4 separate regions of the Homo sapiens genome follow, and all the other regions are linked to region 1. The links come from fine-mapping of genetic effects on gene expression. A gene starts in region 1. Each other region holds a variant in brackets. All regions are shown on one strand. Distances are from middle to middle.

Evidence for each region. PIP is the estimated chance that this variant, and not a neighbour inherited with it, causes the effect.
Region 2: its variant is fine-mapped to the expression of MARCHF6 in monocytes (CEDAR, PIP 0.95).
Region 3: its variant is fine-mapped to the expression of MARCHF6 in monocytes after triphosphate RNA (Kim-Hellmuth 2017, PIP 0.95).
Region 4: its variant is fine-mapped to the expression of MARCHF6 in whole blood (TOPMed, PIP 0.98).

Annotation. Positions count from the first base shown.
Region 1 is chr5:10,348,828-10,356,933 of GRCh38, forward strand. It overlaps MARCHF6 (membrane associated ring-CH-type finger 6), which reads left to right and starts at 4,868. Exons shown (of 26, transcript NM_005885.4): 1 at 4,868-5,090. The coding sequence starts at 5,072. It overlaps MARCHF6-DT (MARCHF6 divergent transcript), which reads right to left and starts at 5,230. Exons shown (of 3, transcript NR_183261.1): 1 at 5,145-5,230; 2 at 2,711-2,946. RefSeq lists enhancers at 4,427-4,686, 5,533-6,104 and silencers at 4,827-4,966, 5,007-5,476.
Region 2 is chr5:10,433,011-10,441,116 of GRCh38, forward strand. MARCHF6 (membrane associated ring-CH-type finger 6) reads left to right here. Exons shown (of 26, transcript NM_005885.4): 26 at 584-7,378. The coding sequence ends at 674. ROPN1L-AS1 (ROPN1L antisense RNA 1) reads right to left here. Exons shown (of 2, transcript NR_102746.1): 2 at 7,725-8,106. Among named protein-coding and RNA genes, the nearest start is that of ROPN1L-AS1, 4.8 kb to the right of the region's middle. The variant C/T (reference allele first, on the strand shown) is at 4,712.
Region 3 is chr5:10,935,921-10,944,026 of GRCh38, forward strand. No RefSeq gene overlaps it. Among named protein-coding and RNA genes, the nearest start is that of CTD-2154B17.1, 150 kb to the left of the region's middle. The variant G/A (reference allele first, on the strand shown) is at 4,070.
Region 4 is chr5:10,306,620-10,314,725 of GRCh38, forward strand. It overlaps CMBL (carboxymethylenebutenolidase homolog), which reads right to left and starts at 1,283. Exons shown (of 6, transcript NM_138809.4): 1 at 1,006-1,283. RefSeq lists enhancers at 561-1,061, 6,678-6,972 and a cis regulatory region at 3,886-4,118. The variant A/C (reference allele first, on the strand shown) is at 5,050.

The sequences.
Region 1 (8,106 bases):
TACGTGTGTGTTGTCACACACACACACACACACACACACACACACATCTATCTGTCAAAGAATCTCCACAAATAAATTTCTAGGGACAATGAGTAGCACACAGGTATATTCTTCCACAGAGAATTTGTGTTTGCTTTTGCCAGGTGCTTAGGGGGTCCCAGCAGTCCAAGATTACATCAAACTAAACTCACTGCTTAAGATTATTGGATCACTAGGGTATGAATTTGGGGTACAGTCTATGCCAGGGCTGATTCATGGCCATAACTTTTCTGGAACTTTTAAAAAATAAGGCTCAGATAAGTTTCCTAAAAGTCTCCAGGAGAAGTCAGATTTACTTGGTTCACCATTCCCCTGAGAGAGCAGCTGTGTGGGTCTTGGGCGAGGCTCCTGGTGGAAGGTCTCTTAACAGATGCCTTCCCTTGGGCAGGCTCTGGGCTTTGACAGTCGTCCTTTTTGCTGCTAGAAACTGTCAAATAGAAGTTCAAGTTTGCCTGGTTCAGCAAAACAAAAGCAGCCTTCATGTTCCATTTACTTTTTGGTATTCTCTCTTGTCCTTAGATTTTGGCCTGGTAGGCCAGGCATGGTGGCTCATGCCTGTAATCCAGCACTTTGGGAGGCTGAGGCGGACGGATCACTGGAGGTCAGGAGTTTGAGACCAGCTTGGCCAACATGGTGAAACCCTGTCTCCACAAAAATTCAAAGATTAGTCAGGAGTGGTGGCACATGCCTGTAATCCCAGCCACTCAGGAGGCTGAGGCGGGAGAATTGCTTGAACCCAGAAGGCAGAAGTTGCAGTGAGCAGAGATCACACCACTCCAGCCTTGGCAGCAGAGTGAGGGAGACTCTGTCTCAAAAAAAAAAAAAAAAAAATTTTTGGCCTGGTAGTTACCTTACTATTTTTGTCAGGCGTTCAGTGCTTTTAGGAATCTGTTTTCTATATTTTATATAGAATTTCCAATTGTTGGTCTAAAAAACCCAGTCTGCCATAGTCTTAGAAAGGGAAGCGAACATCACCACTTTTCTCAGTACTTTAAATGAGAGGTTCTTTTAACCTAGGATTCATGCATGGAGTTCAAGGCATCTATATACCCCCCTGAAATTTCATGCAATGTTTTGTGTTTAACCAATTTTTTCTGGGAACAAAATCCATAGATGTTATCAGATTGTTAAAGGTGCCAGTGATAGAGACACCCTCAAATTTGATAACTATTGCTTTAGAGTTCTATCAGTACCTAGTAATTTTAATTAAAAAATGATTTTAGAATGATTTCAAACTCACAGAAAAGTTCCAAGTAGAGTGCAAGACAATCTCCACATTGTCGTCACCCAGATTCGCCAATGTTAACTCTGCCCTGACCCCACACACAATTAGTCTTTTTCTGAACCATTTGGGAACAAGCTTCAGACCTGAGTCCACGTTACCCCTAAATGCTATAGTGGGTATTTCCCCAAACAAGGATCTTCCAAATCAAGAAGTTAACATCGCTACAAGACCGTTCACAGAATCTATATAAGTTTCAATTTTTCAATTTCAACTGTCCCAAGAATATATTTTTTAAAAAATTGGACTGGGTGCAGTGGCTCATGCCTGTAATCCCAGCACTTTGGGAGGCCGAGGCGGGTGGATCACGAGGTTAGGAGTTCAAGACCAGCCTGGCCAAGATAGTGAAACCCCATCTCTACTAAAAATACAAAAATTAGCCAAGCATGGTGGTGGGCACCTGTAATCCCAGCTACTCAGGAGGCTGAGGCAGAGAATTGCTAGAACCCAGGAGGCAGAGGTTGCAATGAGCTGAGATCACGCCACTGCACTCCAGCCTGGGCAACACAGCAAGACTCTGTCTCAAAAAAAAAAAAAAGTGTGTAATATTTACTTCACAGGATTGCTATGGATGTTCATTGGACATAATAAGGAGTTTGGTTAGTTGTCATTGTTAGTTTGTTACAGTTACACTGTGTCCCCCTACACTTCCCCTCTTACTCATTGCTTATTGGGGTATGGAAAGCCAGCATTGCTATAGCATTCTCGCAGCACAGTACACACACACACACACACACACACACACACACACACGAGGCTGGAATCATGGGTATACTATGTCTTTAATAAAGGATCTTTCTTGGCCAGGCACAGTGGCTCACACCTGCAATCCCAGCACTTTGGGCGGCCATGGTGGGCGGATTGCTTGAGCCCAGGAGTTCAAGACCAGCCTGGGCAACATGGTGAAACCCCATCTATACCAAAAACAAACAAACAAAAAAACAAACCACAAAAATTAGCTGGGCGTCATATGCCTGTAGTCCCAGCTACTTGATACTCGGGAAGCTGAGGTGGGAGGATCACTTAAGCCAGGGTGGTGGACTGTTGCAATGAGCCAAGATCATGCCACTGCACTCCAGCCTCGGTAACAATGTTTCAAAAAAAAAAAAAGTATTTTTCTTGATTGGACAATGAGAATTCTAATTGTAATGGATATCTATTGTTTGGTCCTCCCCCTTCTTGTGGGAAACGGTCTTTCTCTACTTCCACAAGGTAGTGTACATTGTTCTTACCTGAAATGGCAGTTACAAGAACATGACAATGTCCATGTTCTTAAAGATCCTAGATCTTTGGCACAATCATTTGATTCACGGACAGGCAACTAGCTGGACCAATGAACTAGCCTTCCCTGAGAATTTTTAACTTGGGACTAGAGATCATCATCCTTACCTCGCCTGTCTGATGATGAGGCAGAAGATGAAATGTTGGGAGCTGTCAGTGGCCTTGTTTCCAGACATATGGAGGAAGCTGGTCTAACAGCATGAAGCCAATGTGCAGAGAGAGTTGCAGAGCTGAGCCATAGGGGCAGAGGCATTCTCGTTCTAGTAGTCCCAGCAGTCCCTCCCCTTCTTGGAGTCTGTCCATATCAACAGTACATTCCTCCCTTCTGCCTAACAGTTGAGTTCCTGTCAATGGCAACCAAGAGAGGTGTGACTGATTCATGTATTCAAAGGGCTGTTGTGAGAACTTGTGCCTGACTCACAGTGGGGACTCAACAAATGTTGGTTTATTACTCTTATATTTAACGCCTAAAGTCTGAATGCGAAAAGGTTAGGGCAATTCCAGAAGGAATTACTATGCAGAAGGGAAAACTGGTTGACAGGTTAACTTTCCTTTGAACATCACAAGGGAAGGCACCTAAATACAAAAGGAAGGCTTCCTCCACGCCCCCCATACACACACATTCCCTTCATCCTAACCTGGCTCTGCAGCTCCGAGGGTCACATACCTGCCCTTGGCACTACTAGTACTTCCTCCAGCAAGTCTCAGTCTTTCTTTCAGAATCCTTCGCCCTTATGCCATGTAACATCTGATCGGCCCGGTCTTTGCCCCTAGTATCAGCAGGCCAATACGTGCTCTGCTACAGGTCTTACAGGGAGGGTGAGCTCTTGGAGTTGGATCAGAAGGAGAGGGGCTGGGGAAAGATCGTCTTCAAATTGTTTCTTTGGCGGTAGTATATATAAACATATTTAGGCAGGGCATAGTGGCACATGTCTGTAACCCCAGCACTTTGGGAGGCCGAAGCGTGAGGATCGCTTAAAGACAGGAGTTGAAAATCATACTGGTCAATATAGTGAGATTGCAGTGAGCCATTATCGCGCCACTGCATTCCTGCCTGGGTGACAGTGCGAGACCCCTTCTCAAAAAAAAAAAAAAAAAAAGAAAGAAAAAAATCATAAGCAAACAACAACAAAAAAACAAATATAAAGAATGGCGGTCTGCTTAATTCTCCGTGCCAGCCCTTGAAATCAGTGGGTATTATTATGTAGAGTTTGAGTTCTTTCCTCCCTTGAGTAACATGAGTGACATCAGTAACATTAGTCAAGCGCTGCTCTTTTTGAAAGACTGTATTTCATTATTTTTATTCTAAACCTTACTCTGTTTGATGAAGATTGGGGGAAGAGCCCTCCCAATTCCACCGCTCACACATAACAGCGGTTGCTAGCATTCTTTATTTGTGCTAGGTCATCTGCATATTGTTTAAACATTTTTCGAGGCTGGAAAGACTGCTCCCACTCAGGCAATTCTGACGTGGCGGCCCTTCTAATTTATATTCTCTAAATAATTCTTCATTTAGAGAAAACAGTCAGGGATTACAGTGAGGGAGGGTGACGTGCTGACGGGGACAGAGCTTGGCTTTTGATCATTCTCCCCTTAGCTCTGCCCAGGCAAGCGTCCCTAACTCAGGGTATCGGAACCGATCTCCCTTAGAGGATTATGTTTCAACCACCAGCCTCAGCGGTTTACTCAAATGTCCTTCCAGCCAAATGCAGAAGTCTCCCTGGGAGTAATTTTGGTGAAGTCAGCTTTTGCCTTTTTCATCACAGGCAGGCTTTAGTAGTTCCTCAAAACGTGCACCACAACTGCCCGGCTGCCAAACAGAAATGCTGATGCCTGGGCCCACTCTAGCCATTTGGCCTCGGCATCACGGTGCGGGAGCGTGGGGCGCAGACTCGCATTGTCACAGGAACCTCCCGGCCTTCCGAAGAGCCCCGCGCCGGGGCCTTTGTCTCGCACGTCGGCTGGGGCGGGAGCTAGGTTCTCGCAGCCTCCTCCCACCGCTCTGCGCCTTCTTTGTCCCTCCAGAAGCCGCCATCAAAGCTCAGCTCCTGATTAGGTTTCGGCCCCGCTGGCCGGCGCAGTCTCGGCGACTACCCCAGGCGGCCTGGCGCACGCGAGGATTCGCCGCGCCCCAGATGCAGGTGCCTCCCCTCCTTAGCCGCCGACCGACAGTGCACGCCGCGGCCGCCGGAAGTGACAGCGCCTGTCGTTGGGGAGCTCCCGCCCCTTCCGCCTCGGCGCCCCGCCCAGGCCTCGCCCCTAGGTGTTCCCGCCCCTCCCCCTCCCGTGTCGCTCGCTTTCTGTCAGCCTCTCTCCCTCTCCCTCTCCCCTCTCCTTCCTCTCGCTTCCTCTCTCGCACCTGAGCGTACGCACCTGCCCGGGCCCGGCTCCCTCCTCCTCTCCCCTCCCTCTTTCCCCGCCCGGCCGCGGGAGCCTCGTGGCTGCGTCACCGCCGCCCCCCCAGACAAGATGGACACCGCGGAGGAAGGTAAGTCGGCGACGCGCGGCGCCCGAGCCCTTGCGTCGGCGCCCGGGTTCGTACCCCGGCCAGGTCCGCGGCGCTCGAGGTGGGCTGCTGGATCGCGGCGGGGCGGACGCCTGGGCCGTTTGTCCACCCGCTGGGCCTCTGGGCCGGGGAGCGGAAGGTGACCCTCTGCGCGCCCCCCGCCGTTTCCCGCCCGCGCCGCCGAGGGGGGCGGGGACCCTGCCGGGCAGGGGCCGGGGCCGGGGTCGGGGCCTCGGGGCTACTGCAGGCCGGCGTGGCCTCCCTTGTCCCCGCCGTCGCGCGCTGGCCCAGAAAAGGGGGCCTCTGTCGCTGCCGTCCGGGGGCGTTTTCCGCACCCTTCCCCCACTGGGTTTTGTCTTTCTTTACGTCCTTCTGCCTATTGCTCGCCAGGCCCTACCCCCTCGCGACAGAACTTCTTTGTTGACTTTGAAACTTCGCGAAAAATACCCCGCCAGATGACGGCCGAGTGGAGTGAGCTGACCCCTGTTGAAAAGCCTGGTCCTCGGCTTGCCTGCCGCTCGAGAATCTGTTTACTAAACGGGGAGGCTCTTTTGTTGCGATCCATTTGGTTTTAAATCCTTGACACCTATAAGCAGGGTTCTGTTTGTTTTGTTTTGCGATTGCTTGTGTTTTGGATACGGTTACATTGAACAAACTGACCCTTGTAAAATGAATACTTAAGATATAAACGTCCACACCTTATGTCTCTTCAAACGCATTTTCTTACCCACTGAAGGTAGTAGATTATTTTTAACCAGCTGTGTTTTTAAATGAGTGGTGAGTTTATAGAGGAAATTACTAAATTTTGCTTTTTTTGATGTTCCGGTTATCGTGCAAATGCTTTTCTACTTTAGGTATATTTATGGGGGTATGAGCGTCTTTCAACCTTATGGGTTGCGATTTTGGCGATTTTAAACGAAAATGAATTATCAAACGCCGTCATGGAGTGCAATAATGAGTGAAAAAAGTTTGATATTATCTATGTAATGAGTTGATAACGACTTATTTTTTTTTAAAGAAGTCTTGCCTTTAATAAATACCTCAACTATAACATGTGGCACTTGATGTACATTCGCGTTCCATCTTCGTAAAAAGCCTGTGGAATAGGTAGGTATTATCTTTTATAGATGTGGAAATGTAGGCTTCGTTATTTTAATAGCTTGTCGAAGCTTTACACAGGTAGTAAGAGGCAGATTTGAACCTAGGCATTCTGATTGCAAGTAATTTCCCTTTCATTATGCCACAGTGTGTTTATTATATACACTGAGTGTAGCTAATCGCCACTGGAGACGCCTTTGGAAAAAATAGTAAAGCGAAACTGCTGAAGGTTGCGAACTATTTCTTTTTGACAGGTGGTCCTTGCGTGTAAATTTCCATCTACATAGGTTTCACATCCTTTTAGATTCAGGTTTTAATGAGTAAATCTAGTAAGGCATGTATTTATCACAGGATAGGTACGGACGTATTACATTCAATTCTCATTCTTTTGGCCTGGGCATTGCTACTTGCATACTTTTATGGTGTGACAGTAATCTGTGGTAATTCAGGAATTGCGCTCGAAGCACGTATGGAATCATGAAATATTTTCACTGTACTTCTAGTGCTTAAATATATTTTTTCTCTTGTAAAATTATAATCAGGATAAGGTATACATAACATTTATTTATTGAACACTGTTGCCTGTTAAAATAACATGTGCTGAAGACTCAACGTGTAGTATGTGCTTTACTAAACACTTTATATACATTTCATTTAATTCTCTCACATCGTTAGGTAGTCGGCATTTTCATTTTACAGATGAGGAAACTGATGGTTAGTATGATTAAGTAACTTGTCCAGGATAATACAGGTAGTAAATGGCAGAGGCAAGATTCAGACTCATGTCTGTCAGAGTCGCACTTAAATTAGATTATTTATTTATGAGTGTATACTACAAGTCCAATGTTGAAATTTATTTTTGTCACTCCCTCTATAGGATGAATCATTTATATAATTTGGTGGAAACTTTATTTTGCTTTATTTTGTTTTATGAAATTATTAGTCATGAAATGCAAGTGAATTTTAGTGCCGTATTCTCATGCCTGCTTTTGCAAAATTCCAGTTTGGAAGTCTTCTGACATTTTTACAATTAAATTTAAGTTGAAATAACACTTAAAGGAAAAGGGAGGGTTATAGAGGATTAAAAATGATATAGCAAAGATGCCAAAAAACTAATAAAAAATGTTCTATTTGTGAAATCAGTTATTATAGGTTATTTCTTTAAAAAATGCGACTTAGGTTTTTTAAATCTGCTTAGAAATTTTTTGGTAGGAGATATTCAAAGTATGGCCAAACATAAAACTAAATTAAAAAAAAATCAGTATCACCTACTTTTGAAAACACTTATACTGTTGTGGTTCTGTTTTTTATTTATTTTATTTTATTTTATTTTATTTTATTTTATTTTATTTTATTTTATTTTATTTTATTTTATTTTCCGAGATGGAGTCTTGCCCTGTTGCCCAGGCTGAAGTGCAGTGGCATGATCTCTGCTCACTGCAACCTCCACCTCCCAGGTTCAAGCGATTCTCCTGTCTCAGCCTCCTGAGTAGCTGGGATTACAGGAGCGCGCCACCTCCCTCTGCTAATTTTTGTGTTTTTAGTAGAGATGGGGTTTCGCCATGTTGGCCAGACTGGTCTCAAACTCCTGACCTCAGGTGATCTGTCCGCCTCAACCTCCCAAAATGCTGGGATTACGAGCGTGAGCTACCGTTCCTGGCCGGTTCTCTGTCCTTTAAAAATATATTTTAATATTCTGAGCAAAGAGATTAAGAATGTTACAAACACATCAACCGTGCGTATAGTAAGTCTTCCCTTCCTTTTAAAAATAGCACATTGCTTGCCTCTGATGGTACCATATATGATAGTCTGATGCTCAGAATGTTATGCATTTGTAGTAATACTTAGTTCCGACATGGCTGTTTCATACTAATTGTTTGCTAGATTTTAAAGATCTCTA
Region 2 (8,106 bases), 84 kb after region 1:
TTCTGCCTCAGCCTCTCTAGTAGCTGGGACCACACACACCCAGCTAATTTTGTATTTTTAGTAGAGATGGGGTTTCACCATGTTGGCCAGGCTGGTCTGAAACTCCTGACCTCAGGTGATCCACTCGCCTCGGCCTCCCTACGTGCTGGGATTACAGGCGTGAGCCACCACGCCCAGCCCCTTCCTAGCTTTCTGATGGTCATGTTTTTAGTCTGTCTCCTTAGATCTGCCCACTAAGTTGTTTTATAAAATCTGAACCTTAACAGATAAATCCACTGCATAAGTTTACTGTATCCCTCCTGGCCTCCACAGGTCTGAGTTTCTGAGACCCCCTAAACCACTGACTGAAGCATGTCCTCCATTGCACAGCATTGGAGGCCTTCCAGCCTGTGCTGCTTCTGCAGCTTCCTACAAACCCATACCTAGGTAGATGTGTCAGCCTTTACAGGTGTTCACTCGGGACTCCCTTTGACTTGCCCAACCATTGACGAGTTTTAAGTAGGAGTTAGATTTAAAAAGACATATGAATGTTTTACTCTGTACATTCATAGAAGAGAGTAACCACCTTGTTTTTGCAACCTAGGTACCTTGTGGGTCAACGACTCGTGAACTACGAACGGAAATCTGGCAAACAAGGCTCATCTCCACCACCTCCACAGTCATCCCAAGAATAAAGTAGTTGTCTCAACAACTTGACCTTCCCCTTTACATGTCCTTTTTTGTGGACTTCTCTCTTTGGAGATTTTTCCCAGTGATCTCTCAGCGTTGTTTTTAAGTTAAATGTATTTGACTTGTGTTCTCAGCATTCAGAGAGCAGCGGTGTAAGATTCTGCTGTTCTCCCTGGATCTTCTGACATTACTGCTGTCTGAGATTTGTATATGTGTAAATACAAGTTCCTTGATACCCTAAAACCTTGGATTAAACAGAATGTGCATTGTACATCTTTAAACAAAATGTATATTAATTTATTAAATCTAGTTGTCACTTTATTTTGGACCTGCTGTGATCTCGACAGGAAACGTGCCACAGAGCAGTAGTGCGCAGGCAAGACTTTTCAGTGACGCCTTGTGGAACGCAGTTCATGATGTCCTAGCAGCTCTCACTAAGGGAACTGTACATTCTTTCTTTCTTGGCTATTCAGACCTTACCAAGAACGTTAAAGGAAACAAGTAGAAATCAGCAGTGGAGTGTCTGTGGTAAGAAAACATGAACTTTATGCTTCACTGTTAGTTGTTTGTGGAAGTTATTTTGTATAACACCAAAGCTGTTGTACATTTCCTACTGCCTGATTTTTTTCATGTGTCTGTGTTTGTAATATTGTATAGTATCTTGTGCTAGGTGAGGAAATTATTTTTAATTTTGATAATTTAATATTCCTAGTGTGATCAGCATTGGGAGTTGGGTTTCAGTGGGGCATGTCTATACTTAGAGAAAAAAAGTCCAAATGAAGATTTTCATGAGTCAGCCCCCCCGCCCGCCCCCACCCCACACCCACATCCTCTCTTTTCCACACACAACTATCTGTTTATTTTTTGTAGCAGTGGCCGAAAGTCCTGCAAGGTCATAAATCTTTCAGAGTGACATCACCAACTGTACTGCATCTTACTGGATTTAGGACTTCTGAGATGCTTGTGAAGTATAGATGTGGTTGTGGTCTTAGATTGACAGCATTAGAGAAGACTGGTTAGAACATCTGGTCTCGCTGGTTAGTGCCTCGTTGGCTGAGGACTAGGTGTGCATTTCTCCTAGCTTTTCATCAGGAAATCCCAAAGTTTCCAAAGCTTTTTGTTTACAGAATAAAACTTCAAATAAAACCAATTCATTATTTGTCCAGAAGGAAGCTTGGCTGAGCTGGCCTTTTAACATAGGAATGTATTTCGTTGGAAACATTCTGAAAAATCTCAGAGAACTGAACCCTTACAAACTTTGTTTTCCCTCATAACCAAAGCTTCAGGTTAGAAGTTTAGAAAAATAGAATGGTTGGGTACATGATCTAAATGTTTAATGCTAAAGGTATATCGTAAGGGTAGTGTTTGTTTTTGAACGATAATTTAGAAGTTCTCATAGAAAGCGTATAACATAGGTCTTCAGAAACTATAAAAGAATTTTCATATAGTATTAAAATCCATAGACTAAAATCTGAGAATTTTTTAACATATGCAAGTCAGCCAAACATAAGCTACCAAAATAAAGAGCAATGTGTTCTGGCTGTTTTATACTTCAACAATTTTTTCCCTAAGTGGTAAGCAATTACTTTAAAACATATTTTTAAAAACATCGGTATCGGGAGCTGCGGTGGCTCCGGCCGGTTGTCCTGGCACACAAGGAGGCGAGGCTATGCGTTCGAGGCCAACCTAGGCAAAATTGGAAAAAAAAAAAAAAATCAGTATCAGAAATAATGCTTGACATAGGATTCAGTGTTATACTCTTTGGCACTTTAGAGCAGCCTTTTCTCTCATTTGAAATAAGGTCTTTGTTAGCCCTACCTTTACTCAGAAATTTAGTCCTACTATAAAAAATTAGGATTTTAAAATATAATGCTGCCTGTCATAGTGTATTTCTAAATTGCTCTCTTTGGGAGAAAAACATTATTATTGAATTGAGCATATAACTATATAACTATATAACTATATATATATATATATATATATATATATATATATATATATATATATATATATATATATTTTTTTTTTTTTTTTTTTTTTTTTTTTTTTGCCCCCGAGACAGAGTCTTACTCTGTTGCCCAGGCTGGAGTGCAGTGGCACGATCCTGGTTCACTGCACCCTCTGCCTCCCAGGTTCAAGCGATTCTCCTGCCTCAGCCTCCCAAGTAGCTGGTACTACAGGTGCGTGCCACCACACCTGGCTTATTTTAGTTATTTTAGTAGAGATAGGGTTTCACCATGTTGGCCAGGCTGGTCTCGGAACTCCTGACTGCAGGTGATCCGTCCTCCTTGGGCTCCCAAAGTGCTGGGATTATAGGTGTGAGCCCCCACGCCTGGCCAACTTGATTATATTAATTTTGGGTTTTTTGTTTTGTTTTGTTTTGTTTTTTAATTTTTCAAAGAATTTGTGGATCTTGGTATAAAGTCATTGGAACATATCTGTTTTAACAGCAAGAGATCCTAGGCAGATACTTCAAAAGGTTAAAAATTCTTAATCCTACAGAATTTTAAATGAATCTTATCAATGTTTTGTAAACAAACAATATGAATGGCCAAAAAATTGCCCTCCATTTTACTGGCAGGTAATTTATATTGTCTTACTTAAGAATTCTCCCCTAGTTTTTCAATTGTACTTTATCGTGTTGTTTTCAATGAGATAAGTATTTTCATAGGGAAAGCATTTTCCAGCATAATATTTGCTTGGGTAGCATCCGGGTTTTAGTATTTAACCAAGAGCCTTTTAAATATTGAAAACCCATAGTTCAGAAAATGTTAGTATTGCTGCCCTTCTTCACATAAATTTTTTTTTAAATTATACTATTATTTTGCTTAATTTTATATTGGGTTAAAACAACCTTCAAGAAGGTTAACTAGGAAAGAAGACCTTTTTGTTTTATTTTTACTATTTATATATAGAAGACAAATCAGCATTTGGTGATAGTTTTACATGACCAGTTATCAAACGGTCATAGTATGAAGTGTGCAGTTGTTCATTATTAGTAAATTATGTTTGATTTTTAAACTATTTAGTACTAATAGTTGAGATGAAAACTGAAGAAAAATGCCAATGTGACGTTTGTGTATAGCTAGCCTTAAAAAACTTCCCATGTTTTTAGGTGACTTTTTTCCCCCTCTTAGTACTCTGGAGAAACAATGAAGATGGGCCATCTCAATTCCAGATGTAAACAAAAAGTAATTTTTATTTCAACATTTAATGTAACTGCTATTATTGTGGATTCTTGTCTTGTGTATTTTCTTTCCCTTATTCAAGTAATATAGAATAACTTTCCTTAAAATGATTTGATCCAAGATACGTCATTTCTGTATTGGCAAAATGCCACTATTAAAGTGTAATTCTTGAATTTAGGTTGAATTGATGACTTTTTAAAACAAAACAAACACTGGACAGTTCTACATTGTATTGCGTTTGCGAATGTGCGTGAACACACGCACACGTGCAGGAGAATGTAGTGCCATAAGAACACTGGCGCTTTTTAAAACTTTCCAAGCTAGCTACTTATTTTCATTTTCAGGGTTGAGTACTCTAAGCTCTCTACTTACTGTGAGAAGTTTTCTACATTGTAAAATTAAAAGATTATATTTAAAATACTTCTTTAGGATGTTATTCAGCCATCAAAAAAAAACCCAACTAAAATGTCTTACCAGTAAAGTATTATTAAAAGCCTCATTTGTGGAGATTCGCTGACTTCCTTGGTTAAGCTGTCTTGTATTTACTTAATTTGTCCCCTCAACCAGGTGTTTTCTTTTCAGCCTGTTACTGTCCTGTGCCATTTTTAAAAATAGCCATCATGAGTAAGGGCTTCTTTAAAATAATCCCTGACAATATCTTTGGCATTAATACGACATAAAGACAAGACAGTATATGTATGTTTTCATTCCTGTTTTGTACGAGTGCCTCATTTTGTAGTCATGAAAGTAACATAGTACCTTAAATAAAAATGTAATGACTAATCTAAGGTCTAGGAATAACTATTGTAGAAGCTAAGTAGAACACTTAGTTTGGGGTGTCAATTTTCTATCAA[C/T]GCAAACACCTTAGGGTACCCAGACCAATTTTATGTATATATATTCTGAAATGCTCCCTTTTTAATGTGGTCATTTGTTGCCTTCTAAGTTGAGAGGACAAAACTGAATAAAGTGAATGTTAATTGTAGTCTAGTTTTTTTGTTTGTTTTTGTGTTATTGCAAGATTGCTTTAAGATTGCAGAAATATGCATTATTAGCCAGCATAGATAATCCAGATGTTATAATAGGAAGGAAAAACAACTCCAGTTAAATGTGACTGTGGCGACTCCCTTTTATGTATACATTTAAATGCATAGTTGCAGAGGACACATCCCTCCCCTTCTGTCTCCCTAACTTGAACTGTAGACCGTCCTCACTGGGAAGAGTAAGGCCCCACATTTTGTGCAATAGCAAGCTACTGCCCACTTCTGCATGTCTGCTACGAGATCAGAAAGTCAGTTTCACTAAGGTTGTCTTTTAGCTGAATACTTAGAGTAAAACCAATCAAATCCATTGTACATACCTGACCATATGTCCCAGATAAAAAGGAAAGACTTGCGTGATGTTTTTTTCCTTCTGAGTGCCCTGAGGAGATCCTTTTGCTTCAGACTATTTCTAATTTTTCTTTGTTTATAGGTTCAGAATTTTTTCCATGATTGTTTTCCCCCAAACAAGTGCATTTTTAATTACTTTAAATGCAGGGGTGATAGAGGAAATGCTATTCGAACCATAGACATCTTTAATCTGTGAAGCTGAAATTTTTCAGCAAAGGAAATTGCATGGTCAAGTTCAGAAACTGGCCATTAATTTCCCCCTTCCGCTCCACAGTTCATAGCTACTCTTGTTGCAAACATGTAGTGATAAGGAGAACTAACGTATCAAGGGGCTGAGAGGGTAACGTTCCCCTCCTCCTCCATGTTTTTATTTTGGTGTCTGTTTTGTTTCTAGCACTGTATTTAGTACTGTAGTTGAATGAGGTATGATGTCTCCCTTCAAGGAACTCAGAATGGAACAGAAGCATGAGCAAAAGATTGTATTACAGAGGTATGAATAAAATGCCATGGGGAACACAGAGAAAGGTTCACCCGGGAGAGATGGCCTAGCCACTTCCTTAGTGACTGTTTGGTATATGTAGGTCCCCCTGCCATTACTCTTTCAGCCTTCTGCAATCTAGTTCTACTTAGTCACACACTTCTCTAAGACCACTCATACGTAAACACTACGTAGAGGCCCCTTTTTGCCTCATTTTACATTGTTTAGTTATCATTTTGAAACTTTTCTTCACATATGTAACAGTGCCGGAGTTTTTCTGCTTCTCTGTGTTTGTTCAGTAACTCTTCTTTAGGATACACCTAAAGATGAGAAGCTTCATACCCAGTACTCCTCTTCATTCACTCATATGTTTTTGGGATCAGTCCCTTCTGCTGGCTGTGCATTGGTCTAATGGAACAGAATAGAGTCCAGAAATAACCCAACATGTATGTGGACAACTGGTTTTTGACAGAGGTGCAAAGGTCTTGAAAAAATGATGCTGGAATAATTGGGCATCAGATGCAAAATTAAAAACAAATTGATCCATATCTTAACACTGGCAAAGATTAAAGTCCAAATGGATTATAGTTCCCCAAAACTGTATAATTTCTAGAAGACAACAAGGAAAACGTGTTCAGCCTTGGGTTAGGAAAAGATTTCTTAAATCCAACACCAAAAGCACAATCCATGAAGGAAAAATCGATAAATTGTACTTTATCAAAATTGAGAACTTCTCTTTGAAAGGTACCATAAGGAGAACAAAAAGACAAGCTGTAGAGTGGCAGAAAAATATTTGCAAAACATTTCTGATAAATGAGTTGCATCTAGATTACATAAAGAAGTCTCAAAACTGAACAAGTAAACCCATTGTTTACTTAATCGCTGTTTCTCCTGAGCTTGCTGCCTCTGCCCCTGCTCTCTCTCCTTTTCCATTTGTTTTCAACATTGAATCCAGAATGTTCTTCTTGAGATCCAAGTCAGATCACACCAACCCTCAGAACTCTCCAATAGACGACCATGGCACTCAAAAGTCCACAATAGCCTTCAATGCTGGGCAAAACATGAAGCACCCCTTTTCTCCCTTCTCTGACCCCATCACCTCTGTGTTCACCCTGCTCCTGCCGTCCTCCCTGCCTCCAAAACAGGTCAGGCCTTCGTGCCTTTGCACTTACTATTTGCAATACCCAAATGTTCTTCAGGCTCTTTAGCCTCTTCATTTCTTTCCTGAAGTGTCATTCTCACTGAGGCTTATCTAAAGCTGCAGCTACTGGGGCATTCCTGTCTCATCTCCCTGCTGTATTTTGTACTCCCGGCTCTCTTTTGTACTTTTAAACATACTATATGGTTTACCTTTGTTGTTTATATTTGCATGTTGTTTCCCACTTGAATGTAAGCTCCAAAGATTTTATTTTTTTAAACTGAATTATTACTGTATTCCCAGAACAATTCCCTGGCAAATATTTGGTACTCAATAGTAATGCTAAGTTAGTAAATAAATGATGAATTTAGAATCAAAATAATGTGTCTATGGCCAAAATAAAACCTGAAATCCCTGTCCTATTTCCCAGAGGTAACTGCTGTTAATAGTTTAGTTGTGTGCTTCCAGACATACCTTCACAGAATCATTTATCACAATAAAGGTGTCATACTATGCAGATTGTTTGACAAGATGCTTTTTTTCACTTTACACGGGCATCTTTTCATACCATTGTGTGGCCAGGCCATGATTTGTTTTCCAAAAGACATTTACCCAATTTATATGGTGAAGATTTTTGTCCATATTACTTTTTATAGTATTTCTGTAGGGTAAGTTCCCAGAAGTAATATTGCACGATCATCGAAAAATTTTAGTGTTACATTACTGCCCCATAAAGGTACTAATTAACATCCCTCTCAACAACATAGAAGATTCCTTTTTTTTTTTTTCTTTTTTTGGGTGGAGGGGGGCGGGGACAGAGTCTTACTCTGTCGCCCAGGCTGGAGTGCAGTGGTGCCATTTCTGCTCACGGCAACCTCCACCTCCCGGGCTCAAGCTATTCTCCTGCCTCAGCCTCCCAAGTAGCTGGGAATACAGGCACGCGCCACTACGCCCAGCCAATTTTTGTAGAGAAGGGGGTTTCACCATGTTAGCCAGGCTAGTCTCGAACTCCTGACCTTGTGATCAGTGCTGGGGTTACAGGCGTGACCCACCGCGCCCGGACGGATTTCTTGTTTTCATACTGTCATCAACTTTAAATACAAGTATTTTCAGTTTTTGCCAATGCTGTTAATTTAGAAATGTGTATGTATATATTGTCTGGTGGGTGTTTGGATGGAAACGATCAAAATCGGGCAACTTCCCCAGTTTCCTTGAAGGGAGTGCTTGCCATCGGCCCCTCTGGGA
Region 3 (8,106 bases), 590 kb after region 1:
CTGCCTGTATGAATTGAAGACAAGTTCTGTAACTACCAGTTAGGGCAGCTGAATAGATTATTGATTCTTTAATTTCAGGCCACAAAGAAATCATTACATGGAGTTATGAGAGTTTAGGTTAAATTAAAAAAAATTAAATATTTTTAGCAGAGTACATTTTGCTTGCCTAGGGAGATTGCTTCTCCAGAGCCACTTAGAAATGTCTTATACAGGTACTATCATGGTGGCTGGGACAGTCAAACAAGAAGGTCAGAGAAAAAAGGAGGTGCCCTCCTGGGTACTTCTAGTCTTAGGGGATTTTATTCTTAGAGTGTGATGTTAATCTTACAACTGGGGATTTGTGCATCAGCCACCAGGCGCCGTGTTATTTCCCCTTCAGTCTCTGGTAACCAATGATTCTACTATGACCGACTGACATTTTCGCATTCTCACTGAGACCCTGGTGTGTGGATGTGTGTAATGGTGTTACATTAGGACTGTTCTAGTACTTTTATGTTTTGGATGTTGGGGCATGGATTCAGAATAGTTTATCCTATTCTGAGCCATGCTGTCGTGGAATTTGCTGAGCTGCGATGGGTGTCTTAAATATATGAGAGTGAATCTCTAGTTTGTTAGCATTTGGAGTTTCCTGAAGTGTAACCAGTTATGTTGCCTAAACAAAAGGGGATGTTTGGGCTTGACTTTGTTAGTAGAAACACTGCCTAACTGCAAAAGTACCTGCAGGGCATGACGGCGTGTTCTCCTCTGAAGGTCTTTAAGAATAGCATGGATTCCGCCTGGGCGCGGCAGCTCACGTCAGTAATCCCAGCACTCTGGGAGGCCGAGGCGGGTGGATCACATGAGGTCAGGAGTTTGAGACTAGCCTGGCCAACATGGTGAAACCCCATCTCTACTAAAAATACAAACATTATCCAGGTGTGGTGTTGGGCACCTGTAATCCCAGCTAACCGGGGGGCTGAGGCAGGAGAATCGCTTGAACCCAGGAGGCAGAGGTTGCAGTGAGCCGAGATCGCACCGCTGTGCTCCAGCCTGGCAGCCTGGGCGAGAGAGTGAGACTCCGTCTCAAAAACACAACAAACCAAAAAAAGAATAACAGAGTCAATTCCTTTGCTCACAGTGGCTAAAACAGTTCCTACCTGAAGAAAACAGAAGTGGATCTCATGACATCTTGAGTATTTTGCAGTCCCATTATCCATTTCAAAAACGAGCCTTTTATTCAGCCTAACACTGCATCTAATAGAATAAGATTTTTGAGAGTGAGCTTTTGAAATTATAATGTTGGGATGTTGCTAGATGCTCTTTGAGTGATGAGATTTTAATTTTGAAAACCAGCAGTGAAACACTCACCAACATGTTCCTTCTAGATGAAGCTGCAACTGCAAGACAGTTGTTACTCTTTCGATAACTCGAAGGCAGTTTTAATTATTAACTAATTAGGGTGGAAACAGAGGCTTGTCATTTTCATTATTCTCATGGCACACATTGTTAATAATTTTCTGGCTTTTGGCATAGTGATATAGGGCACTTCAGTTATGGCTTAAAAAAGGGGAGGAGGGCACATCTTGGAGGTGGATTAAATAAAGATTTAGCTTCTTTGCCTCAGGATTGATATGTGCCATTTTAAAGCAAGGCTCATGAGATCTCTGGATCGAGAGGTCAGTACTAAATACAGGAATGAAAATGCTGCAGGCTCTGGGGAAGGGAGGTGGTTAGTTCTGCCCTGCCTGGGGAGAAGGGGTTCATAGCAAGCAATTTCACATGGGCTTTGAAGAAGTCAGAATCGGGTAAGGATGGGGTGTGGGAGAGAGAATATATGACAAAGAGAACCAGAGGGAAAAGGACATGGATGTGAGGCTGTCGAGCATTTATTCAGTCAACAAATATTTATTGCTGTCTGCTATATGCCACATACATTCTAAGCCCTGGGCACAGCAGAAAATTAAATGGGCATGTTTCTACTTTCCTGGAGGTCCTAGTCAATTGACAGTGCTCCAAGGATTGTAAGCAGCATGGTAAAGTTGGCGTCGGACAGGGAGCAGGTGTCACAGTGTCCAGTGTCCAGTGGTGAAAGACCATGCGATGCTGGGTCAAGGAACTCAGGCTCTGCTCTCTGGTCTCAAGGCAGCCCCTTTGCTAAGTGGCTCTATGGCTCCAGATTTTGTGGTAGGAGGACCTCAGCCACCCCTCCAAATATACCCAGTTATTTCTGGGAGCAAGTCCCTTGACGTGCCTCTCGTGCATCGCACAGGTTTTCAACAACAGTCCTCTTGCAGTCTTCACCCTGTCTTTCCTTTCCTGCCCTGGCTGAGGCTCCCAGCTTCCCGCGGTATGGCCCAGGTTTCAAGTCCCGAGAAAAACCTTATCACACGGGCACCACCTCATAGGAACAGGAGAGATCCTTGAGTAAGTGAGGAGATTTTACGTCCTAATTGGAGTAGTGATTACATGAGTGAATACTTTTGTTGGAAGGTACTATATTGTATCCTTAAAATGGGAACATTTTATAAATTATTTTATATCACAATAAAGTTAATTTTAAAAGAAAATAAAAATTGTGATGTCCATCTTTTTAGTAACCTCAAATCTTTTTACTTATTAAGGAGATCTATAATTTATTTATTGTTTACTATGTATTGAATGCTATGTGTTTTACATTAATTATTCCATATACCTAGGATGAAAATACTACTATCATACCCAATTTGTGGCTGGGGAAACTGAGGCTCCCAGAGGCAAAGTAATGAAGGAGCTAAACTGGTATCCCTGCAGTAAGGGTTGGAGACAGGATTGGAGCACAGCCTTTCTCAATCCAAGTCCTTGCCCTTATCCATTCTGTGAAGCAGCCTCTTTTGTCACAAAGGTTATAATTTTACTTCCTCAGTAAAATAAAAAAGAAGTCACCTGTTTAGCATCTGAGCTTTGGGGTGCTGGTGTGGGGGCTCAGAGCTTTACGCAGGGTGCCACGGGAGTGGCCAGCACATCTCCAGTCCTGTTTCTCGATTGCCAGCCCTTCCTCTCAAGTAACAATGCTGGAGTCAGCAGGCAGGAGGCTGTGAACACAGCACTTAATGATTCAGTCCTGTTGCTCCCTGAGCCAGCTGGAGAAGCCTGGCTCACACAGCCCGAGAGATCTCTCAGGCATGGAGCTCAGGTAACCTTCTCCACCTACCTCTTTTTTTTTTTTTTTTTTAGATGGAGTCTCTTTCTGTCACCCAGGCTGGAGTGCAGTGGCGCAATCTCGGCTCACTGCAACCTCCACCTCCCGGGTTCATGCCATTCTCCTGCCTCGGCCTCCTGAGTAGCTGGGACTACAGACACCCGCCACCACGCCTGACTAAGCTTTTGTATTTTTAGTAGAGACAGGGTTTCACCGTGTTAGCCAGGATGGTCTCTATCTCCTGACCTCGTGATCCGCCCGCCTCGGCCTCCCAAAGTGCTGGGATTACAGGCCTGATCCACCGCGCCCGGCCCTTCTCTTTCCATTTAGCGGCATCATTCTTCATCTGTGGCCAATGCTATCCTAGACCATCACTCAAGGTGAAGCCAGGGTTGGACTGCTGTGTTTAGAGAAGCCTCAGGTTAGTCTTTGTAGGTTTTGTTCACTTTATAGATCACCCAGGGAGGGCATAAGCCAGTGGGCCATTCTCACCCCTGAGGACGGAACTAGACCCTTGGGGAAATCCACACCTCCCCTGCCCCAACTCCTGTCTCTGAGTCCATCTGTCCCCAGGATGGACTAGAGGAGAACAGTGATGTCCCGCAGCCTAAAGACTGAAGCCTCTCCCTTGCCCCACGCCCCATGAGGAATCAAGGGTCACTCTGAAGAGAAACTGAATTGAAACTAGTTCCAGTTATTGAACACCTGAGCTAATGGACTGAGGTCATCCATCTCTATGTACATAGTAGTCTGGAGTGTGAGTTTTGGGGATTTGGGTGGACCATGGAGGGCCAGGCCTTCTACAGGGCATTGTCCTTCTACGTTCTGGGAGAGAAAGTGGGAGAGGAGGGTGTTGGCCCCATGGGCAGGTCACACCATAGACTCTTACATGGCTATTTGCAATAGCTCTGA[G/A]CCCCACTCAGGGCAGAGAGGGGATATCTAGAGGTGGCTCTGAGAGAAGATAAAAACTTCTTTAGCAAATTTACTTCTTGAGAGAGGGAAAAGGAGGGGCCCAGTGACCTCCAGGTTGTACAAGGATATTCTCCTGAACCCATCAGCTTTCCTAGCACCTAACCAAATGGAGACACATAGACATACCCCATGAATGGGGATCTAGGAGGATTTCAGATAATATTCAAATGTCTTTTCAATGGTCTTTCTGCGTCCAAACTAATTTCAATTCAAAACACACACTGCTTCATGCATGGTGAGATAGAACTGCTTCTCTCAGGATGTCACCTCACTCAAACTGTTACTGTCTCTCAAGGCAACATTAACATAGGAAAACCCACAGTACTGACCTCCACACCCTGTCTCCCAACCTTACAATTTGTATCACAAACAGTGATGGAAGAAGAAAGAGAATAAAGAATAAATTAAGGGGATAGATGAATGTAAAAGTGAAGATTAGAAAGATGAAGTAAAGAACAGAGAGGTCTTTCTGGGGATAGAGGGACCCCGAAGAAGAAGAGCTGCTGGTTTCAGAAGAACAAAATTGTGGTCACCTCATCTCAAAAAGGGTCACTTATTTCCTTTATGGGTCCCATATTTCCTTTATGGGTCCCTTCCTGCCACCCCTTCTGTCTGAAACTCATTTTCGTGTTATCCTTTTGTCCTTCCTTCTATAAACTAAAAATAAAGACCCAAGCAACAATGCTCCACCCCCCACCCCACCCACTGACTGGGCCCACTTATGGCCAAGAGGACCCCAGAAAATCCTTAAAAGTGAGTTCCTTGCTTTTACACTGTTGGTGGGAGTGTAAATTAGTTCAACCATTGTGGAACACAGTGTGGTGATTCCTCAAGGATCTAGGACCAGAAATACTATTTGACCCAGCCATCCCATTACTGGGTATATACCCAAAGGATTACAAATCGTTCTACTATAAAGACACGTGCACATGTATGTTTATCACAGCACTATTTACAATAGCAAAGACTTGGAACCAACCCAAATGCCCATCAATGATAGACTGGATAAAGAAAATGTGGCACATATACACCGTGGAATACTATGCAGCAATAAAAAAGAATGAATTCATGTCCTTTGCAGGGCATGGATGAAGCTGGAAACCATCATTCTCAGCAGACTAACACAGGAATAGAAAACCAAACACTGCATGTTCTCACTCATAAGTGGGAGTTGAACAATGAGAACATATGGACACAGGGAGGGAACTTCACACATCGGGGCCTGTCAGGGGGGTAGGGGGCAAGGCAACGTAGAGCATTAGGACATATACCCAATGCATGCGGGCTTAAAACCTAGATGATGGGTTGATGGGTACAGCAAACCACAATGGCACATGTATACCTATGTAACAAACCTGCACGTTCTGCATATGTATCCCAGAATTTAAAGTAAAATTAAAAAAAATCACACAAAACAAAAAAACTGAGTTCCTGGCCATGATGGGATGGGAGATCAGAGGCCTTGTTACATCCCTTCCCTTTGGTGGTTCAGACACAACAATTGGCCGGCATTACTGTTAAAATAGAGATCGTAAGACAGGCAGAACAGACGCTTTGTGGCAACAGGGTGCCAAATTATAAACAGGGCCCAAGGCCATTCCAGGCAAGGGTTAAGTCACACATCCGTAAACTTAAAGAATCAACTACATTTTAACTGCCAGGAGGTTACTCTTTTTCTCTAGCAGCTAAACAAGCACTGGCCCTGAAATAAGCAATATGGAAGCAATTGCAGCTCAGCCACCTCCAAACACTGACTAAGCCCTGCTGCTCCACCAGCCATAACTATAGCTTTAATTGGACAAAACACTGATTTCAGTAACTTTCTCCGGTAAGACGACCACCAACTGTGGACTGGATCTGGGCAGTTTACAGTGGGTGCACACTTGCCTGCCTTACTGTCCTGAAAAGACCTTTTGACGTATAGGGCCTAATTGTAATACATTTAAATGTTAAGTCTCCACCCCAAACTGAACATGGGTCATATGTTACACGCATGTTTATTCAATATACATGTGTCAGGACCACCCTCATGAATATTTGTAGTTCTTCCTGTAACCTGTTGAATATGTATGTTTAGCCAGCCTGTTCAGCATAAAGCTCCCACCCCAACCCTTTCTCCTTCAAAGTGTCCGTCTCTGGGCTTCAACCAAGGCCTGTGTTGCCCAGCCCTCGGGGTGGCCACCTTACAGGTGGCAGCTCTTTACAAGAAATAGTCTCCTCTCCTTTTCCAAACTTTATGAGTGTTGTTTTTTTTTTTTGAGACAGAGTCTCACTCTGTCGCCCAGGCTGGAGTGCAGTGGCGCGATCTCCGCTCACTGCAAGCTCCGCCTCCCGGGTTCACGCCATTCTCCTGCCTCAGCCTCCCCCGTAGCTGGGACTACAGGCGCCCGCCACCACACCCAGCTGATTTTTTTTGTACTTTTAGTGGAGACGGGGTTTCACTGTGTTAGCCAGGATGGTCTCGATCTCCTGACCTCGTGATCCACCCGCCTCGGCCTCCCAAAGTGCTGGCATTACAGGCGTGAGCACCGCGCCCGGCCCTGAGTTTTTAAATTGTTGTTAACATTTCCTTCTTTCCTTCCTTTACTTCCCTCTCCTCTTTTTCTTTTTCCCTCCCTCACTTCCTCATTCCTTCCTTTTTTTCCTTTTTTCTTTCTTTTTTGAGAAGCGCCAAACTCTCCTGTAATGGTAGAGAAAAAGAGGATCACTTAGGAGTTTCGATGGTTTAATTTCTGGGCTAGTTCAGATATGTCAATGTTTTTAGTATCAACAGTCCTAAGGACATTTTGCTTTTTTCACCAGAAGCTGTTTTTTAATTAAGTTAACGTTGTCTACTGTCTCACTGTTGATTTTCATTTTTTTTTTTTAAATCATGTAAGATCTTCCTGTAAGCAACTTCAGAATATCCTCTTTTCACATTTAAGGCTGCAGTAATTAGACCCAGATTTGCTGAGCCTGTGGGAATCCTACAACCAAAGTGATCTTAATGGCATTTTAATGTTTGAACTCTTCTGTTCTTATGTGCGAGGTTACCAAGCAGATAAAAGAAGTGGCTTTGACATCCTGGTGCTTATTAGAGTTTAGAAAATGCCCTTTAAGGGTGAAAGGTTTGTGAGTTTTTCTTTACTAAATGAGAAACAGTGAAACCAGCAAACCTGTATCAGTACTCACAATGTATTTTGCGTTTTTGGTCTCTTTATACTTCAGATACTTTGAGATATTCTTGGGTAAATACTTATGTAAGAGGATTTTATGAATGACAGCACCTTGATTTTATGAATGACAATACCTTGTAAATCAGGAAACAGTAAAAAAAAAAAAAAGTGTTCAATGGTTTGTAATAGGAGAGATTTTGTATCTTCAAAGGAAAGGTATGTATTTTGCAAATTAAAGACAAGGTGGTATTTGGGGTTTGAGAAGACTTTGCATGAGATTACTTTATAAAGCCTTATAAAAACACCCAGTTCACAGATGCCAATTTTATTGGTATTACCTCCATGTGATTTATGATAGATGATCAAATGAAGAAAAAGCTAAAACAGATTAACCAAAGCATGAAATCATTATTGTCTCAGGCTGTTACCTCACTTAAATTTTCTCCAGTTTTAGGGGTCCAAGAACTGTCACCTGGACTATCGCTGGAGGATATATCCTATTCCCCAAATCCTACAAACTTCACTTTCAATTCAATAATAAAATTCTTTGCTGGTTGTTTCCTTTGACCCATCCAATTCTTTTCTAAGTGCGAGATAATTTCTAAGCAGAGACCCACTTTGTTATTCTTGTAGAACCAGTCCATTAGCTCAGTAATATTTCCCTCCTGATAATTACACAGCACCTGTTTATGTCACTGCATTCATGGAGCACTCATTGTGTGCAAAGCATTATGCCAGGACTGTAGGACTTCAAGATACCCAGGACAGTCCTTGAGTTGCTGTTCTCTTTTGGAAAGTCTGCAAAATGAATCAATAAGTGAT
Region 4 (8,106 bases), 42 kb before region 1:
ATTGTAGGAACTTGCATGGCAAGTGATTTTCAATCTTGCAGCAGGGAAGGCAGGGCCAGTACTTATCCTTAGATGATTCTACAAACATCAAACTTCTCCAAATATTTATTTTTCAGCAGCCATGCTTGTATTTTCCAAGTGTCTATGGTCGAGATAGCATGAATTAGGAAGCTACCTGGATGAGCCCACAATGGCCCTCTTAGACATGCCAACGACGCCCCTGCAGAATCTGCTTTTTCTCTGGCTGTTCCTAGGCCTGGATAGGGTTCCCAGGCCTGGACAGGATTCCCCGGATACCGGCGAGGCTCATTACTAACCACTTTATTTTAAATGGGCTTTGAAAACAACAGGTGGCATCTTCCATCAGCAAGTGGACATAAATCTCAGTGCCCAGTGTTTCCAAGGCCTGCCCGACCCACATGGCTGTGGGGTGTAAACTGTCCAGTCGTTCCTGGCACACCTACCCAGCATTTAGGATGTCCCACTCTTAGATCCATAGACCCAGCACCTCTCTTCTTAATACCCACCCTAAAGAAAAGCTGTCGAATGTGGATGCTGATTTAGTTGCAAATATGCTCAGTTTTTTAATAGTTTTATATTAGTAAAAACGCTACAACCAGAATGTCTCACTGCAGGAAGAGAGTTACAAGGAGTATTTAACGGCATGGTGGAAAGGCTCCTCCGTGCTAAATGGCCAAAACGAACGCAAGTTTGCATACGGTGTGATTTCCACTATGTCTTTAAAATGCATGGCGAAACACCTACAGGAAAATACCAAAATGTAAACAGCGGCTGCTTCGGACGCATGGGATCGTGGAGGCTGCTGTTCTGCAAGGACAACGTATCACTTTTATGAAAGTCAGCTTCTGAAAACGGACTATGGGAAGTTCCTTACCCGTGCACGCGGCAAAGACCTTCTTTGCCATAGTCAGAACACACGCGGGAGTTCAGAGGAGCGGGGCCCGGGCTTGTGTGGGCTTGTGTGCCCCGGGGACGCGCACGTACCTTGTCCCGCGGCCTGAGACTGCGCTGCACCGCGCGGAGGCCGAACCCAGAGGAGGCGGCGTGGCGCCGGGCGGGGACGCGAGAGGGACGTGGACGCGGCGACCGAGGACGCGGGGATCCTGCGGGACCAGTGGCTCCAGTCGTAGCCTCCTGGGAGAGCCAAGCCCGGAGGGGGCGGAGAGGTGGAGGAGGGAGGCCTGGGGGAAGAGAAATCTGCAAAGTCGGGGAAGGGAAGGAAGGCCAGGAGGGAGGGAGGCGCAGTGGGGAGGAGACGAGAGAAGGGAGGGAGGGAAGTGTGAGGGGAGGGGAAGAAGTGGGGTGGTCGGAGGGTGGGGTAGGGAGGAAGAGGGAGGGAGAGATGGGAGAGGCTCCAAGATAAAGAAAGGTGCAGGGAGAGGGGGTGGGAGGGAGGGAACCGCAGAGAGGAAGGGAGAAGAGAATCAGGCAGCCTTGAGGGAGGAGGCAGGGAGGCCAGGAGAAGGAAGACAGCCAGCCTTCTGTGAGATTTACGTGCGTGCCTGGCTTCCAAGACAAGTAACTTCTGTTGTAAATACAAATTAAGCTATTTTTTGTTTATTTTATTTTATTTTATTTTATTTTATTTTATTTTATTTTAGAGATAGGGTCTTATTCTGTCACCCAGGCTGGAGTGCAGTGACACAATCATAGATCACTGGAGCCTCGAACTCCTGGCTTCAAGTGATCCTCCCCTTCAGCCTCCCAAAGTGCTGGGATTACAGGTGTGAGCCACCATGCCCAGCCACAATTTTTTTTTTTTTTTTTTTTTTTTTTGAGATGGAGTCTAACCCTGTTGCCGAGGCTGGAGTGCAGTGGCACGATCTCAACCTCAACCTCACTGCAACCTCCACCTCCCGGATTCAAGTGATTCTCCTGCCTCAGCTTCCCCAGTAGCTGGGATTATAGGCACGCGCCACCACGCCCAGCTAATTTTTGTGTTTTCAATAGAGACGGAGTTTTACCGTGTTGGCCAGGCTGGTCTCGAACTCCTGACCTCAAGTGTTCCACCTGCTTCGGCCTCCCAAACTGCCGAGATTACAGGCGTGAGCCGCCGCACCCGGCCCCAGCCCCAAATTAAGCCTTTTTTTAAAAAAGAAATTAATACACGTTTCATACTTGCCTCCTTCGTATTTTCTCTGGTCATCTGCCCAAGGTTATGACAACAGCTTCAACTTGGCTGCAGAAGCACACCCCTGTGGCTCACTCAAACTGGAAACATACAGGAAAAGGGAATTCTAGGAATATAGCTCAGCCTGGACAAATGGGCACATTAAAAAGCCATTGCACCGTGGTGGCCGCACTTCCTGCCATCCCCACTGCAAAGGTGTTGTTATGGACTGAATGTTTGTGTCCCCTCCAAAATTTGTACGTTGAAATCCTAACCACCCCGCCCATGGTGGTATTTGGAGGCGGGGCCTTTGGGAGATGCTTAGGTCATGAGGGTGGAGCCCCCAAGAATGGGATTTGTGCCGTTACAAAAAGAGGCAAGGGAGCTTGCTTCCTCATCTGTATGCCAGGAAGAGGATACTCACCAAGAACCCAATCCTGCTGGCCCATCCCAGACTTCCAACTTCCAGAACTATAAGAAATAAATGTTGTTTAAGCTACCCAAGTCTATCTATGATGTTTTTGTTGTTGTTGTTGCTGTTGCTGTTTTTGAGACAGAGTCTCGCTGTGTCGCCCAGGCTGGAGTGCAGTGGTCCCATCTCGGCTCTCTGCAACCTCCGCCTCTCGGGTTCAAGCAATTCTCCTGCCTCAGCCTCCTGAGTAGCTGAGACTACAGACATGTACCACCATGCCCAGCTACTTTTTGTATTTTTAGTGGAGATGGGGTTTCACCATGTTGGTAAGGATGGTCTCAAACACCTGACTTCAGGTGATTCACTGGCCTCGGCCTCCCAAAGTGCTGGGATTACAGGCATGAGCCACCTCGCCCAGCCTGGTGTTTTTGTTATAGCAGCCCAAACGGACTAAAACAGTGTTTTCCTTCTAGAGATACACTAATTTTCTTTCAGACAGGATCTTTCAAAACCCAGTCTGAAACATCTGCAGTTGAATTATTTTATGGGCTTGGAATTTCTCTAAAATAGTGGTTAGGGATTTTTTAAACATCAGAATAATTTAAAAAGTTACCAAAGTGTTATTACCCAGAACAAATTCAGGGTCAGCGCCAAAGAAAAAAATTTATTTACTTTTTTTGAGACAGGGTCTCACTCTGTCACCCAGACTGGAGAGCAGTGGAATGATCACAGCTCACTGCAGCCTCTACTTCCCTGGGCTCAGGTGATCCTCCCACCTCAGCCTCCTAAGTAGCTGGGACTACAGGCATGTCACCCAATTAAGTTTTTGTTTGTTTGTTTGTTTTTGTTTTTGTAGAGACGGGCTTTCGCCCTGTTGCCCAGGCTGAAGAAAAATTCTTGTTTCCATCCTACAATGCGCAAATTGCTTGTGACACCTAAAAGGACAATTTTTCAACTTCACCAATTTTAGTGCCAAACTCCATGGAAAATTAATCACACAAGTGATTATTTAACCTAGGTTCTTAAAAAAATTAAGTTTCCTTCTTACAGAAACTCTCAGCAGAAATGAACTCTAAGATTTCATGGAGTTCCCTATAAATTAAAGAGCTATGACTCAGCGTTTGCTGCTCGTTACCCCTCCAAAGTTATCTTTATTTTTCATTATAAAATAGGTAACTAAATTCCAGGGACAGAATGAGTCCAAGCTGAATTAACAAACAGGGCAAGGTCAAAGTTAAACAAAATTGCTGACTCTGCTCAAACTCCTGTGATTTACACTGACCTTGAAGGCAAGGCCAGGAAAAGTATTCCTTGGAATTGCTCCTCTAAAGACGCTTGGAACAAAATCAGAAAAAGTGCTGCTGTGTTTCAGAACATCTCAAAATAATACCTGAGGGCAAACATATTCTATGTCATCTGTTACCATTTCCTGGCCGTGCTGCTGACTCAGCCTCCAGCACTCCTTGGTGGAGCTGCAGGGAGCCCGCTGGGAAAGCGCTGAATCCTGTGCACAGGAAAGGCACTGCTGGTGAAGACAGGTGAGAGGCTGGGTAGGTGATTTCTAGAAGGTTCTTGAGCACCAGTCGGCCATCTTGTCATCCCCAGATAGAAAGCTTAAATTTGCTTTTTTTTTCACTTTTTATTAATGAAAATGTACAAACATATAGAAAGGTAGAAAGAAGAATACAATTAATTCCCATATACCCCAGGCCTAAATATAATTATCTTTAGTATTTTGCTAAACTTGCTTCATCGATTTTTTTTTCAAAAGTGTAGAAATTATAGACAACTTGACATTTTACCCCTTAATAATTTTGTAGTAGTCAGCCTCCAAGATGACTCATAACGTGCCCTGCCTCTGAGAAATCACAACCCTATGTAGTCTCCTACACTTACCATGGTTGGTCTGTGTGACCAATAGTCTACCAACATAGTGATGGTGTATTAGTCTGTTTTCATGCTGCCAGTAAAGACATACCCGAGACTGGGCAATTTACAAAAGAAAGAGGTTTAATGGGCTTACAGTTCCACGTGGCTGGGGAGGCCTCACAATCATGGTGGAAGACGAGGAGGAGCAAGTGACATCTTATGTGGATGGTGGCAGGAAAAGAGAGCTTGTGCAGGGAAACTCCTTCCTATAATACGATCAGATCTTGTGAGACTTACTCACTAACATGAGAACAGCATGGGAAAGACCTGCCCCCAGGCCAGGTGCCATGGCTCACGCCTGTAATCCCAGCACTTTGGGAAGCCAATGTGGCCAGATCACCTGAGGTCAGGAGTTTGAGACCAACCTGACCAACATGGTGAAACCCCGTTTCTACTAAAAATACAAAAAATTAGCTAGGCATGGTGGTGGGTGCCTGTAATCCCAGCTACTCAGGAGGCTGAGGCAGAAGAATCTCTTGAACCCAAGAGGGGGAAGTTGCAGTGAGCTGAGATTGCACCACTGCACTCCAGCCTGGGTAACAAGAGCAAAACTCCATCTAAAAAAAAAAAAAGACCT[A/C]CTCCCAGGATTCATTACCTCCCACTGGGTCCCTCCCACAACACACAGGAATTCAAGATGAGATTTGGGTGCGGACACAGCCAAACCATATCAGATGGTACGTCTCTTCCAACATTAGATTAGACTCTGGGACTTCCACCTCTCTCTTCTCTCTCTCTCTTTCTCTTTCTGTGTGTGTGTTTCTGTGTGTCTCTGTGTGTGTGTGTCTAGCTTTCTCTCTCAGATCACATGCTGTAGGGGAAGTCAGCTCCCAGCCATGTCTTGAGTAGCCTCTGGAGCAAAGAAATCGTGACCCACAGCCATGTTCCTGGGCCATCCTGGACAAGAATCCTTCAGCGTCAGCCAAGTGTCAGATGCCATAACCCCATGGTAACCTCCTGAGAGACCCTGAGCCAGAAACTCCAACTAAGCCACTCCCAGACTCCTGAACCTCAAACTGTGCAAGATAATAATGTTTATTGTTGTGAGCTGCTAAGTTTTGGGCTAAATTGTGACACAGCGATTGTTAGTTCACACAGATGTTGATACCTTTGATAACTGGAAGTGGGGTGCTGCTATGACAACACTTCATGTGTGATAGTGACTTTGGAACTGTGGCTTTGGATTATCGAGAGTGTTAGTGAAAGCCTTGATTTACCCGAAAAAACCTGTTGATAAAAGATTCACGTCTTTTGTTTTTGTTTTGTTTTTTAGAGACAGGGCCTCACGCTGTTGCTCAGGCTGCGGTGGCATGGTCATAGCTCTTTGCAGCTTCAAACTCCTGAGCTCAAGGGATCCTCCTGAGTCAGCCTCCCAAAGTGCTGGATTACAGGCACATGCCACCACACTGGGCCTAAGACTCGGATCTTTAAAGATTGCAAGTGAGCACTTGTAGGAAAGTGAGGTCAATGAACTAGAACCTGGAGGAAGGGGGTCCTTGTTATGCAGTGGCAGACAGTTTGGCAATGCTGTTGACTGCAGTTATGTAGACAGAAGCAAATTAGCTGGGTAATCTGGCCAAGGAGATCTTCAATTGGTGTTTAAAGTACTACCTAGTTTTTTCTAATTCCTTCTAGTAAGATGCTAGAAGATAGGTCAACAAAAGGAAAGACAGTTAAATATAAATGAATTAGAACTGGATAGTTCTGGAAATTCTCAGTCTGCCTAGATGGCAAATGTATTAGGCCGTTCTTGCACTGCTATAGAGAAATACCCGGGCCAGGTGTGGTAGCTCACACCTGTAATCTCAGCACTTTGAGAGGATCACAAACAAAACAGGAGGATCACTTGAGCCCAGGAGTTTAAGATCAGCCTGGGCAAGGTAGTGAGACTCCGTCTCTACAAAAAAGTGAAAAAATTAGCCGGGTGTGGTGGTGCATGCCTGTAGTCCCAGCTACTTGGAAGACTGAGGTGGGAGGATTGCTTGAGCAAAGGAGTTCAAGGCCACAGTGAGCCAAGATCACACCACTGCACTGCAGCAATAGTCAGGCTCTGTCGCTCAAGATGGAGTGCAGTGGCATAATCTTGGCTCACTGCAGCCTCAACCTCCCAGGCTCAAGTAATCCTCCCATTTTAGCCTCCCGAGGAGCTGGGAATACAGGTGCGACCACCACACTCAGCTATTTTTAAAATTTCCTTGTAGAGAGAGGGTTTCACCATGTTGCCCAGGCTGGTCTCGAACTCCTGGGCTCAAGCTATCTGCCTGCCTTGACCTATCGAAGTGTTGGGACCACAGGACCTGGCCGTCAGACACTTACACAAGCAGATCTCGTGGGAACTCAGAACAAGATCTCACTTATCAGCAAGAGGATGACTCAAGCCATCCATGAGCTTCAGTTTTGAATCACCCCCATGATCCAAACTCTTCCCTCCTACCAGGCCCCACCTCAAACACTGAGGATTATATTTCAACATGAGATTTGGGTGGGGACAAATATCCAAACTATATTAGCAAATTATGAAACAATTAAGAAATGGCTTCTAAGCAAAGATCAAATGCAGGTCCTGCCAGAAAAACTGTGGTCCAAGATGAACCCTTAGGTGTGACTGTAAGATTCCAAAGAGATATAAGGTGGCATCTCAGAGTACCACTGAGTCAGACAAAGGGCCTGCTCTATAGAGTAAAGGTGCACCCCACAGCCTCTCTCAATCAAAGGAGAGTGCTTCTAGGAAGCTTAGGGGCTTTGTCCCTCAGCTGTCTGCAGAAGCCAAAGGTAGAGAACAGATTTGTGGGTGTTGCATTTGTCTATGGAGTGAACCCCAATAAAATTCACAGAAAATCCATAGTTTAAGAGAATTGTATATACGGAAATGTTACCAGCTTGGACTGAAAGGAACAGAAATAATACAACCTAAAAAGAAGACCTTATTTGTTACTTATTTTGGGGGGAGGGGACAGGGTCTTGCTCTGTCAATCAGGCTGGAGTGCAGTGGCACGATCTTGGCTCACTGCAGCCTGGACCTCCTGGGCTAAAACAATCCTCCCACCTCAGCCTCCCCAGTAGCTGGGACTACTGGCACATGTCATCATACCTAATTAGCCATGTCATAATGGCTAATTTTGTTTTTATTTTTTGTAGCAATGAGGGTTTCACTATGTTGCCCAGGCTGGTCTCGAACTCCTGGGCTGAAGTTATCCTTCCACCCCAGCCTCCCAAAGTGCTGGGATTACAGGAATGAGCTACAATGACTGGCCAAAAAGAAGACCCTAAAAATTCTACTGTCAAGCAGTGGACTGAGGCTGCTCCTCAGCCACACACGACACCTTTTTTTTCTCCCTTTGTGAACAGGGGCGTCTGGAGTAGTTATTCTGTGTTCTCTTACATGTTCAATTGGGGAGGGAGAGGCAGAGGTAGACAGACAACCTATCAAGAAGAATTATAATGTAGAAACTGTATTTAAGGAAATAAAGTCCCACCTGGACTTGATTTAGATGATCTGGAGATGGAACTGATGCTACAATAGGATAAGCCTTTGGGGAACTTTGGAAGGAGTTGATGGTATTTTGCATGTGGGAAGGATGTGAAGCTTTGGAGACCAGAAGGTGGACTGTGGCTGTCTGCTGGCTGGCCTGTACTG